Homo sapiens: one gene and its partners. The protein of the gene in region 2 interacts with the protein of the main gene of each other region in a biochemical or structural test. Each region holds a gene or a part of one and is shown on either strand. Other genes may lie near its edges. The genes, in order: CTH, RAD18 and PCNA.

Evidence for each region.
Region 1: the proteins of RAD18 (region 2) and CTH form a complex in vitro, tested with the Homo sapiens proteins (one study listed by BioGRID).
Region 3: of the proteins of RAD18 (region 2) and PCNA, one has a biochemical effect on the other in vitro, tested with the Homo sapiens proteins (21 studies listed by BioGRID, with this or other methods).

The regions. Positions count from the first base shown.
Region 1 is NC_000001.11:70,409,616-70,413,371, forward strand, and holds the start of CTH (cystathionine gamma-lyase), read left to right. Parts: upstream 1-1,652; 5' UTR 1,653-1,800; coding exon 1,801-1,968; intron 1,969-3,756. UniProt on the Homo sapiens protein: Catalyzes the last step in the trans-sulfuration pathway from L-methionine to L-cysteine in a pyridoxal-5'-phosphate (PLP)-dependent manner, which consists on cleaving the L,L-cystathionine molecule into L-cysteine, ammonia and 2-oxobutanoate.
Region 2 is NC_000003.12:8,953,443-8,957,098, reverse strand, and holds part of RAD18 (E3 ubiquitin-protein ligase RAD18), read left to right. Parts: intron 1-3,656. UniProt on the Homo sapiens protein: E3 ubiquitin-protein ligase involved in postreplication repair of UV-damaged DNA. Postreplication repair functions in gap-filling of a daughter strand on replication of damaged DNA.
Region 3 is NC_000020.11:5,114,435-5,117,096, reverse strand, and holds the end of PCNA (proliferating cell nuclear antigen), read left to right. Parts: intron 1-1,524; coding exon 1,525-1,648; intron 1,649-1,734; coding exon 1,735-1,814; 3' UTR 1,815-2,144; downstream 2,145-2,662. UniProt on the Homo sapiens protein: Auxiliary protein of DNA polymerase delta and epsilon, is involved in the control of eukaryotic DNA replication by increasing the polymerase's processibility during elongation of the leading strand.

The DNA of each region.
Region 1 (3,756 bases), on a different chromosome or scaffold from region 2:
GCTAAGTTTTGTGTTTTTTGTAGAGATGGGGTTTCACCCTGCTGGCCAGGCTGGTCTCGAACTCTTGACTTCAGGTGATTCGCCCACCTCGGCCTCCCAAAGTGCTGGGATTAATAGGCGTTAGCCAATGCACCCAGCCTAGTGCTGTCTTCTGAATGATTCTTTATTACAGTACACTAAATAAAATGTCTGTATTTATGCAACTCAGGGTTTGTCAGCAAATATTAGGAGGTAAAACTAATTGGAACTGTTTTAGACCCTTTTGGCCCCTAAATGCCATATCATATTACACAAAAATACCCACCTATAGTTATACATAAATATTGAGGTGAGTTGCAGTTGATGTTATATTTTTAAAAGAAAAATATTAATTAAATATGTATTAATATACATTAGTGTTTTGAAGTCTATCCATTTTTTCCCCCAGCCATACAAAGTTTGGTAGGATTCTAAAAGCTTGTAGGCCCTCAAGCACCACTCCTCTAGTGCTTAATGGGTTAAATGTCCCTAAAGCTAATTTGAAAAGCAAATTGCCTCATTCTTTCTCTTCATATCTTTCTTTCAAACTGTAAATTTTAAGAGCTGTTTATTCCTTATTCTCCTTGTTCTTAATTTGTTTAATAAAGTTTTAGATCTTTAGCGAATATTTTGCAACAACAGAAATATCCCCAAATTTCCTGGTGCTAGAAAACAGCCACAATAGTAAGTAGGTCAAGTCTGTATTGCTTAGGGAACAGGGAGATTTTTGTTTTAAAGCAGTGATTCTTCTGAGAGTAGGGCTCTGGGCGCAGGTGAGTGGTAAACAATCCTTTTTCCTGCAGGGATGTTGCTGTTGTGTAAAAGCAAAAGCATTTTGTGTAAGGATGTTAGGCTCCAGTAAGTATTTCAAAGCCACATTATCTTTCTCATTAGGGGGAGTTTCTCTCTGTACTTTAAAAGAAGATAATGATGCTTGAAAAAGCTCAAGATTGACTAACTTTTAGGAAGCTGCCAGAGTTGTGCATAGACGTCCTCACTACAGTAGCTTCGTTATGTCTTACGAACAATTTAACCTTCACTTCTAGTCATCGTTTCGTCATCGTAAGCACTGGGTCATTACAGAGTTCAGTGTACCTAAAACGCAAGCTGTGACTGATGAGAATCCAAGCTGCAAACTGGGCGGCTTGGGCAACTGTTTTCTTAACCACCCTCCACGTTGTGGCTTACGTCTTTTAGCACCGCCCTCAGGGCAAAGGATGGTGGTCAGAGGTAACTACCACAGTAAAAGAAGGCTATTTATGTGGTCTGTTTACAGTTACCCGGTTTCAACACTAAGCCAGCTTTCCGCCACGTCTCGGGCGAACCTCCGGCCTGAGGTCACAGAGACGCCCGGGTGGCTCTCAGGAGCCAGCATGGCAGCCTCCTCAGGACGGGTACTCAGGAATTTCGCCCGCAGGGACTAACACCACTTGGACCCAGGGACTCCAGCTTCACTCCGCTTTGTGCACTGGGTGGGGCGGTCGCGGTGACGTTTCAGGCAACGCCTCTGCTGTCAGCCAATAAGGAGCGGGAGACGCGTCGGGCCTGCGCTCAATGGGCCGCGCTGGTCCCGCCCCACTGTGATCGTGAGACTGCAGACCCGCTAATAAAATCCACCCCAACAATCGCTGTGTGCCGCTTTAGTGCGCTCGCCGTCGGCTCTACCTGCGTGCTTTAGCTCCTTCTCGCCTGATCCTTCTGTCTCTCCCAACCCCGGACACCCGGCTTCGACTGGTTATATCTTCGGTGTTCTTTTCCTCTCTTCTTCTTTCGCGGTTCAGCATGCAGGAAAAAGACGCCTCCTCACAAGGTTTCCTGCCACACTTCCAACATTTCGCCACGCAGGCGATCCATGTGGGCCAGGATCCAGAGCAATGGACCTCCAGGGCTGTAGTGCCCCCCATCTCACTGTCCACCACGTTCAAGCAAGGGGCGCCTGGCCAGCACTCGGTGAGCTGGGTCTGTCTGGGGCTGTCCACAGTTGGGCGGTAAAAGAGATACGGCTTATGAATTTGAAAGGCATGTAAGTAATTTATAATATGACTTATAAATTAGGAAGGCAACCGAAAGATGTTTCTACACTGTAATTCTTGCAGCACAGCTTTGTATCGGATGGTCCAGTGATCGTATTTCTTTTGATAAGCAGGACTGGAAGGAGCCGTTTGTCCAGCTTGCCATTTAGATTTGGCCTGAAATTCAGGTGATTTTGACAAATTTGCAATTAAAAATCGAAGGTCATAACTTTTTTGAGTTACCTTTAGCAGCATAAATTTTAAAGATGTAGTACGGAGTCAGCTTAAAAAATATTAAGGGTCTGATAACTTGACTAGAATTAAGATTGTTTCCAGTAGCTGTATGAATAGTTATTGAGTACCTACTATATGCCAAATACGTGCTCGTATATATCATGTGTATTACATGTATTGTCTCATCTAATCCTAACAACAACCCTAGTCTGAACCGAATTCTCATTTTTTCCCAATAAAGAAGCTGAGATTTAGGGAGTTAAGTAACTAGCCTTAGACTAGTAAGTATTGGAGATGGAATTCAAACTTTAGAAACTTGAGGTTGCTTTAGGAACCAACTCCTAGGCACTCAGCTACACTATGCTATCTCTAATAATGCTAGTAACAATTTAGCCTATTGCGTCATTTAAGCACTGTGGCTTAGTGATTAAGAACACAACTCATGACCGGGTGCAGTGGCTTACGCCTGTAATCCCAGCACTTTGGGAGGCTGAGGCGGGTGGATCACCTGAGGACAGGAGTTCGAGCCCAGCCTGGCCAACATGGTGAAACCCCATCTCTACTAAAAATAAATAAATTAGCTGGGCATGGTGGCGGGTAATCTCAGCTACTCGGGAAGCTGAGGCAGGAGAATCGCTTGAACCCAGGAGGCAGAGGTTGCAGTGAGCCAAGATCTCACCATTGTGCTCCAGCCTGGGTGACAAGAGTGAAACTCCAACTCAAACAACAACAGAAAAAGAGAACACAAATCTTATAGTCAAAGGCTAGGTTTGCATTCTGACACCACTTCTTCTGAGCTGGGGGACCTTGGGCAAGTTAGTTAACCTATCAAAACCTCTGACTGATCCTGTATAAATGGGGATAATAATAGTATCTACCACATAAGTTGTTGAGATGTATTTAAGGCTGTATAGTACATAATAATTACTCGATGGTAATTTGTTTTTTCATGATGTTCACATTTACACTATTTCCATTTGATCCTCACAACAACCAGGTCAGAAGGCAGGACAGGTATTATGTACTTTTTATAGAAAAGGAACTGACACAGAGTCATACATGAATGATCTGTAAAGCCTACGAAGGAGCCCTCTTTGTTAATCACATAGCTTTTTTCCCCCTTTTGGTGGCATACTTGATGGATCTTAGAGAATTTAAAAGTTGCTGAGATTTGTAAGAATTAGTTAAAGTCTGTAAGTCCAAAGCCTTGATTATGCTTTGGAAACCACTTCAGTGTGTTATATAAGTTGAGGAAAATCCTTACAGACAGTCCCTTGTTTTGTGAGATACAGTTCTAAGGCCATTTCTACAACTGGTTTAGAATACTCTTTACTGTATTTTAGAATCAAAATATGTACACAGCCTCTCTTTCTTTCTTTCTTTTTTTTTTTTTTTTATTTTTCAGAGAGAGTCTTACTCTGTCACCCAGGCTGGAGTGCAGTGGTGCGATCTCGGCTCACTGCAACCTCCGCCTCCCGGGTTCAAGCGATTC
Region 2 (3,656 bases):
TGCAGTAAATTCACTTTAATTCCAGCATCTTTTTTGTTGATTCCTTAGAAATTTTTGCATACACAATCATGTCATTTGTGGATAAAGACAGTTTTACTCATTCCTTTCTGATCTATATGCCTTTATGTTTCTTTTTGTTACACAGGCTGGTACCTCAACTACAGTGTTGAAAGTGGTGTGGAGGGACATCCTGTCCTTACTCTTAATTTTTTGGGGAAAGCATTCAGTCTTTTACCATTAAGTATGATGTTAGCTGTAAGTTTTTTTTATATTCTTAATATGTTTTCATAAACCTACCAAGTTGAGGCACTTCTCTACCCCTGGTTAGGCGAGAGGATTTTTTTTTTTAAATCATGAATGGGTGTTGAATTTTGTCAAGTATTTTCTGCAGTTATGGAGATGCTCATATGATTTTCTTCCTTTATTTTGTGACATAGCTAATAACGTTGTTTTTGTTTTGTTTTGTTTGGGAGACAGGGCCTCACTCCCTCACAGTGGCTTTGTTACAGACTGGCTTTGTACTGTAGTCCCCCCTTATCTGTGATTTCAGTTACCTGTGGTCAACTGCATTCTGAAAATACTAAATGGGAAATTCTGGAAATAAATAATTCATAAGTTTTAAATTGCACTCTGTTCTAAGTAAAGCACTGATGAAATCTTGTGCCGTCCTGCCCAGGATGGGAATCATCCCTTTGTCAAGTGTGTTGATGTTACATATGCTATCTACCGTTAATCGTTTAGTGACCATCCTGGTTACCAGATTGACTGTTGCAGCATGGCAGTAATTGTCACTGTGTTGCAGAACACAGTAATTGTGTCAAGTAGCGCTTATTTTACTTAATAGTAGCCCCAAAGCACAAGAGTAATGATGCTGGCAATTCGGATATGACAAAGAGAAACCATAAAATGCTTCCTTTAAGTGAAAAGGTGAAAGTTCTTAACAAGGAAAGGAAAGAAAATTGTATGCTGAGGTTGCTAAGATCTACAGTACCATCTACAGTACAGCACAAGATATTTTGAGAGAAAGACCACATTTACATAACTTTTGTTATAGTATATTGTTTTAATTCTATGTTATTGTTATTGTTCCTAATCTCTTACTGTGTCTTATTAATAAATTAAACTTTATCATAGGTAAGTATGTATAGGAAAAAACATAGTATAAATAGGATTCAGTACTACCTGTGGTTTTAGGCATCCACTGCGCTTTATGGAATGTCTCGCCTGTGTATAAGGGGGCACTACCATATAGAGAAAGATCTTTACTAGTCAGCTTGACTGCAGATTCTAGGGGCTTCGTAAGCCTTTTCTGTGGATGTGTCTTCCCTGGACTTGTGATTATAAATTTCCAAGCCGAGAGATTTGGTCAGTTTTTTCATTAGCTGCTGTTTTTCTCTCTCATGTGTCTGTCCATGGTATTGCAGGTTCTCCAGAGTTGCTGTAAGCCATCAGCCTCTTTTTTTGTTTTCAGCTGCCCTCAAGCATCTAAAGTATGCTGATCCAAAGCACCCCAAGTTGAGTGAGACAGAAACCATTCCCTTAGGCAGTCCTTTGAAAAGTTCAAATGTTGGTCACACACTCCACTATTCTCTCCCAGCCTCCCCTCCCAAGATAAGCCGCAGAGCTATATCAGCCTCTGTCTGCTCTATGGGTCCTGTGGATCAGTAGCAAGCAACCCAGCTTTTTTTTATTCTTAGCAGTCCCCAGTCACCTAGAACATGCAGGGTTCATGCTTAGTGGGGTGAGACAGAAGCCAGTCCTCTGGCCAGCTCTTGGAAAAGCTAGAACATTGGACCGTGTTTCCCTTCTTTCTCTCCCCAGGCAGAAAGTTGGGGGTTTCTCTTCCTTGCTGAGCCTGGGGGAGGCACACTGGCCAGTGAGTGTGGTACTAGTCCAGACCTTTGCTTTTGTTCTCAGTGGCCCTCAACCTGGTTCCCTTTTCTGTCAGTGTATAGATTCAGGCAGCTCAGAAACCAGTTTCTCAAGTAGCCCCCGCAATGTAAGTGCTAGTCTTCTGTTTCTCTCCCTAGGGATACATGTTGTTTGCTCACTTCTTCATGACTTATAGCTGTCACTTATGCCATTCTTTAAGAGGAAGTCAGTGGAGGGAAGTTTCAGTAATGATGATTTTTTATTTTATGAGCACTTTTTTTTCACTTGTGAAGTCTCAGTATTCAGTAGGCCTCTTCTACTAAACACCAGTTGTCACAAGTCCCGTCATGTCTAAAATTTGCTCTGGGTCTTTAGTGTTTTAATGACACAAAACCCCCAGGGCTGTAGTGGAAGCCAGGTCTGTCATGTTCTGGTATCATCTTGGATTGACTAGAATTGGTGATCCAGAATCCTAGGTATTTATTGTTGCTTCTTAGATTTTTCATGATTTATCATTTTTAAATCACTTTATTTTGTTTTGTTCTGTTTAGGTTTTTGGATATGAGTAATAAACACTACATTTGTAGTTCTGCAGGTACAAAGGTGTGAGTGGGGTGCCTTGGCAGAATGCAGGTCAATTAAATTGATCCAAATTTGTGCTATTAAAGAGTATTTTGGGGGCGAGAGGGAGCAGACTTACTCCAACCCATAAAACACCATTAAGTGAGAAATGGTCTTGCTAATAGACTAATATGCCCAAGTGCCAATTTTCTTTGCACTTGCTATAATTTTTCTCACTTCATAATGGAAGATGATCAAAATATTTAGCAATTGGCTGGCTTTCAAACATCAAAAGAGTCTAGCATCTTAATAGTAAAAAGGAAATTTCTAAAACTTAAATGAATCCTTGTCATGTGAAATCTTAAGGACTTTATGAAAGAAGGAACTTTTTAGAAAGAAACATCTAAAGTGTCCAGTTAAAAGCAAAAACCAGTGTGAAAAGAACAGGAGGTCCAAGAAAGCTGAAAAGGTTGGCATCTGCCTCCAGTTCTAATGTTAAGGGACAGTTAGTTGGTAAGAGAATAACATCCCTCCAACTAAAGACTAGCATTTCAGAATTTCCAGAAGTGCAGCTCTGCATAATTATATCTCCCTTTTGTGTGTGTAGCTATTTCTCTTCTCCTCTGCCTTGTTTCACAGTGCTACTTCATGAGAATATAAAAGAAGATAAACACGTTTATTATTTGCCTAATAGAATCTTATGTTGTCTCTTGAATTAGCAAAGGTTTCGTAAGGGGAACATTTCATATTTCAGTTTGTTTTAAAAAATGAAATAAAATTGCTTTTTACTTCTACACAAGCTTTGATTAATTTTTTTTGAGTCAAAATCCACAAAAGGAAAAAAAAAAAAGATTGCTGGCCAAGCTTTAAAATAGTGGTAATTTATCAGTGTCCACAAGCCAATTATTTTATCTAGGATCTTGCTTGGGATTAGAGATGCCCCCTCTCCCAAGGCTTGGATATTTCTGTGAAACTACTCTTTAATTCATTGTTGTTATTGTACCTTCCTCCACTCTGCCCACACATCTTTTTTGGGCTCTCTTGGATGGAAAGACAAATTTCATAGGTGATTTAAATGAAGCCCTCTGGGAATACATGAATTCAAAACTCTTCAGCTGTTCTTCTTTGAATGGAAGGGTTGTCATAGTTGCCCACTAGAGAATAAATTATGCTGGTCTGCAGCTTACCAGTACATATTTGGTAGTAGTCTAGTAGAGTGAAAT
Region 3 (2,662 bases), on a different chromosome or scaffold from region 2:
CTACCTGTTTGGAGCACTTATGTAATCCTAATATTAGCTTACATGTTGTGGGTCCAATTGGTAGCCCATTTTAAAGGTGGAGAAGCAGGCTGAGCAACCTTAAGTGACAATTTAGCCAAAGTCACAGGCTGTAGGAATCAAAGGTTAAACAGGAAGGAGACTTCTCACTAAGGCTAGAAAGCAGACTCCATGCAACTTTGAGAGTACCTAGAGAGCCCTTGTTTAACCAAAATAGAAAGAACATGGCAAAACCCCATCTCTACTAAAAATATAAAAATTAGCCGGGTGTGGTGGCGCACACCTGTAATCCCAGCTACTTGGAATGCTGAGATGGGAGAATGACTTGAACCGAGGAGGCGGAGGTTGCAGTGAGCCCAGATCATGCCACTCCCCTCCAGCCTGGGTGACAGAGCAAGATTCCATCTTAAACAAACAAAAAAAACTCGCTAACCTGGGCATAAATTAAAACTTTGTAAATCAAGGACAAAGGTCCTAACCTCATAACCTTGTTAGGATTAAATACGGTAGCATTAAAGAGCTTAGCATATGCTGTGTGTGGCATATTATAAGCTTACAATAAATACTATATATTGCTCTCTTGTCCCTTGAATGGGTAGTCAACATTTAGTTTAAATAAAGGTAAAATTCAGTTGAAAGGTTTTTTTTTAAATTAATAAAGTCTAGGAGCTGATTCTTTATCTGTTTCCTGAATCACATTTCCACTCCTGCCAACCTCGTTTTTTTCTTTTTCTGTTTTTCTTTGTTTTTGAGACAGGGTCTTGCTCTGTCCACCCAGGCTGGAGTGCGGTGGTGCAGTCGGTTCACTACAGCCTCAAACTCCAGGGCTTAAGTGATCCTCCTGCCTCAGTTTCCCAAGTAGCCGGGACTACAGGTGTGTGCCAACACACCTAGCCTGGTTTCCCCTAATTTCATTTTCCCCCTTCCATTACAATCTATTTGTTGAAGAAATTAGATCATTTATTAAGTTTTCCAGAGTTTGGATTTTGCTGATTGCATTCCTGTGTATACATAAATTCCTCTACCCTGTGTGTCCTACAGACTGGTAGCTATAGCCCTGGAGCCTTGATATTCAGGGTGTTTTGTTTCGGGGGTGAGAGAGCAAGAATATAGGTGGTGGTGTGTGCCTCTAGTAGGAGGCACAGGGTGTCTGGATGTGTTTGCAATGTTAGCAGCTATAATAGTCATTGTCTAGATCCATTAAGTCATTAATTAGAGTTTGCAGAGCTGAAATTAATACGTTTTATTCACTTATTGGCTGCTTATTAGAAAAACTTCCATAAAGAAAAGCTTTCCCATATTATATAATTTGGTTATCTAAATTATAGCTATAGGAAAGACAAGCTAGATAATCGAGTCTTTTGCTTTATGTATCAGTCTTCAAAATTTTCATAGCTCCCTCCAAAGTGACCAATACAAGTGTTTGTGGGTTTTTATAAATATATAATGAGCTAATAGATTGCAACTTTCTTGATGTTTTTCAATGATGAATCTTTTGTTTTGTAGGTTACCATAGAGATGAATGAACCAGTTCAACTAACTTTTGCACTGAGGTACCTGAACTTCTTTACAAAAGCCACTCCACTCTCTTCAACGGTGACACTCAGTATGTCTGCAGATGTACCCCTTGGTAAGATAATAAATTTGAACCTTGTTTTGTAGGTAGTCATATGTGATACATACTCCTCAGTAATTAACCATCTTCCTGTCTTTCAGTTGTAGAGTATAAAATTGCGGATATGGGACACTTAAAATACTACTTGGCTCCCAAGATCGAGGATGAAGAAGGATCTTAGGCATTCTTAAAATTCAAGAAAATAAAACTAAGCTCTTTGAGAACTGCTTCTAAGATGCCAGCATATACTGAAGTCTTTTCTGTCACCAAATTTGTACCTCTAAGTACATATGTAGATATTGTTTTCTGTAAATAACCTATTTTTTTCTCTATTCTCTGCAATTTGTTTAAAGAATAAAGTCCAAAGTCAGATCTGGTCTAGTTAACCTAGAAGTATTTTTGTCTCTTAGAAATACTTGTGATTTTTATAATACAAAAGGGTCTTGACTCTAAATGCAGTTTTAAGAATTGTTTTTGAATTTAAATAAAGTTACTTGAATTTCAAACATCACAGGGCAGTGTCTTCATTTTGACCAGGACTGTTGGAAGTATCCTACTGAATTCCCAGCTACAGCTACCCTTTCGTTTAAATGGTTTTTCAGTTTAGAGCAGCCTGATGGAGATCAAAAGGATTTCAAATACAGTAGGTTACTAGATATTTTAGGGGATTCACTTGTCAAACTTGTTATTCCAATTTGAGCTCAAGGAACAAGTGAGAGAGTAGTACAAATCCTGTGTATTTCATTTTACTTGGCAAAAATTAATACTCTTCAGAAGCTTAATGTACCGAAAGTCGTGTGGGCTTTATAAGATGTTAATGGAGTGTTTCTTTTTAGCCTGGGGAATCTTACAAGAGTCTTGGATGTTTCAGTAGAGCTGTAATGGGGCCCAAGGAGTATGGTTGTACAAAATTTCTCTAGTATAAGTACACTTTGCAACTTCACTCAAAGGATGAAGATGTCTTAAATTCCACGGATGTTGGATCCAACCAAGAAAGTGAAAAAGCCCTGAAGTTGTGAAGAAAGACTT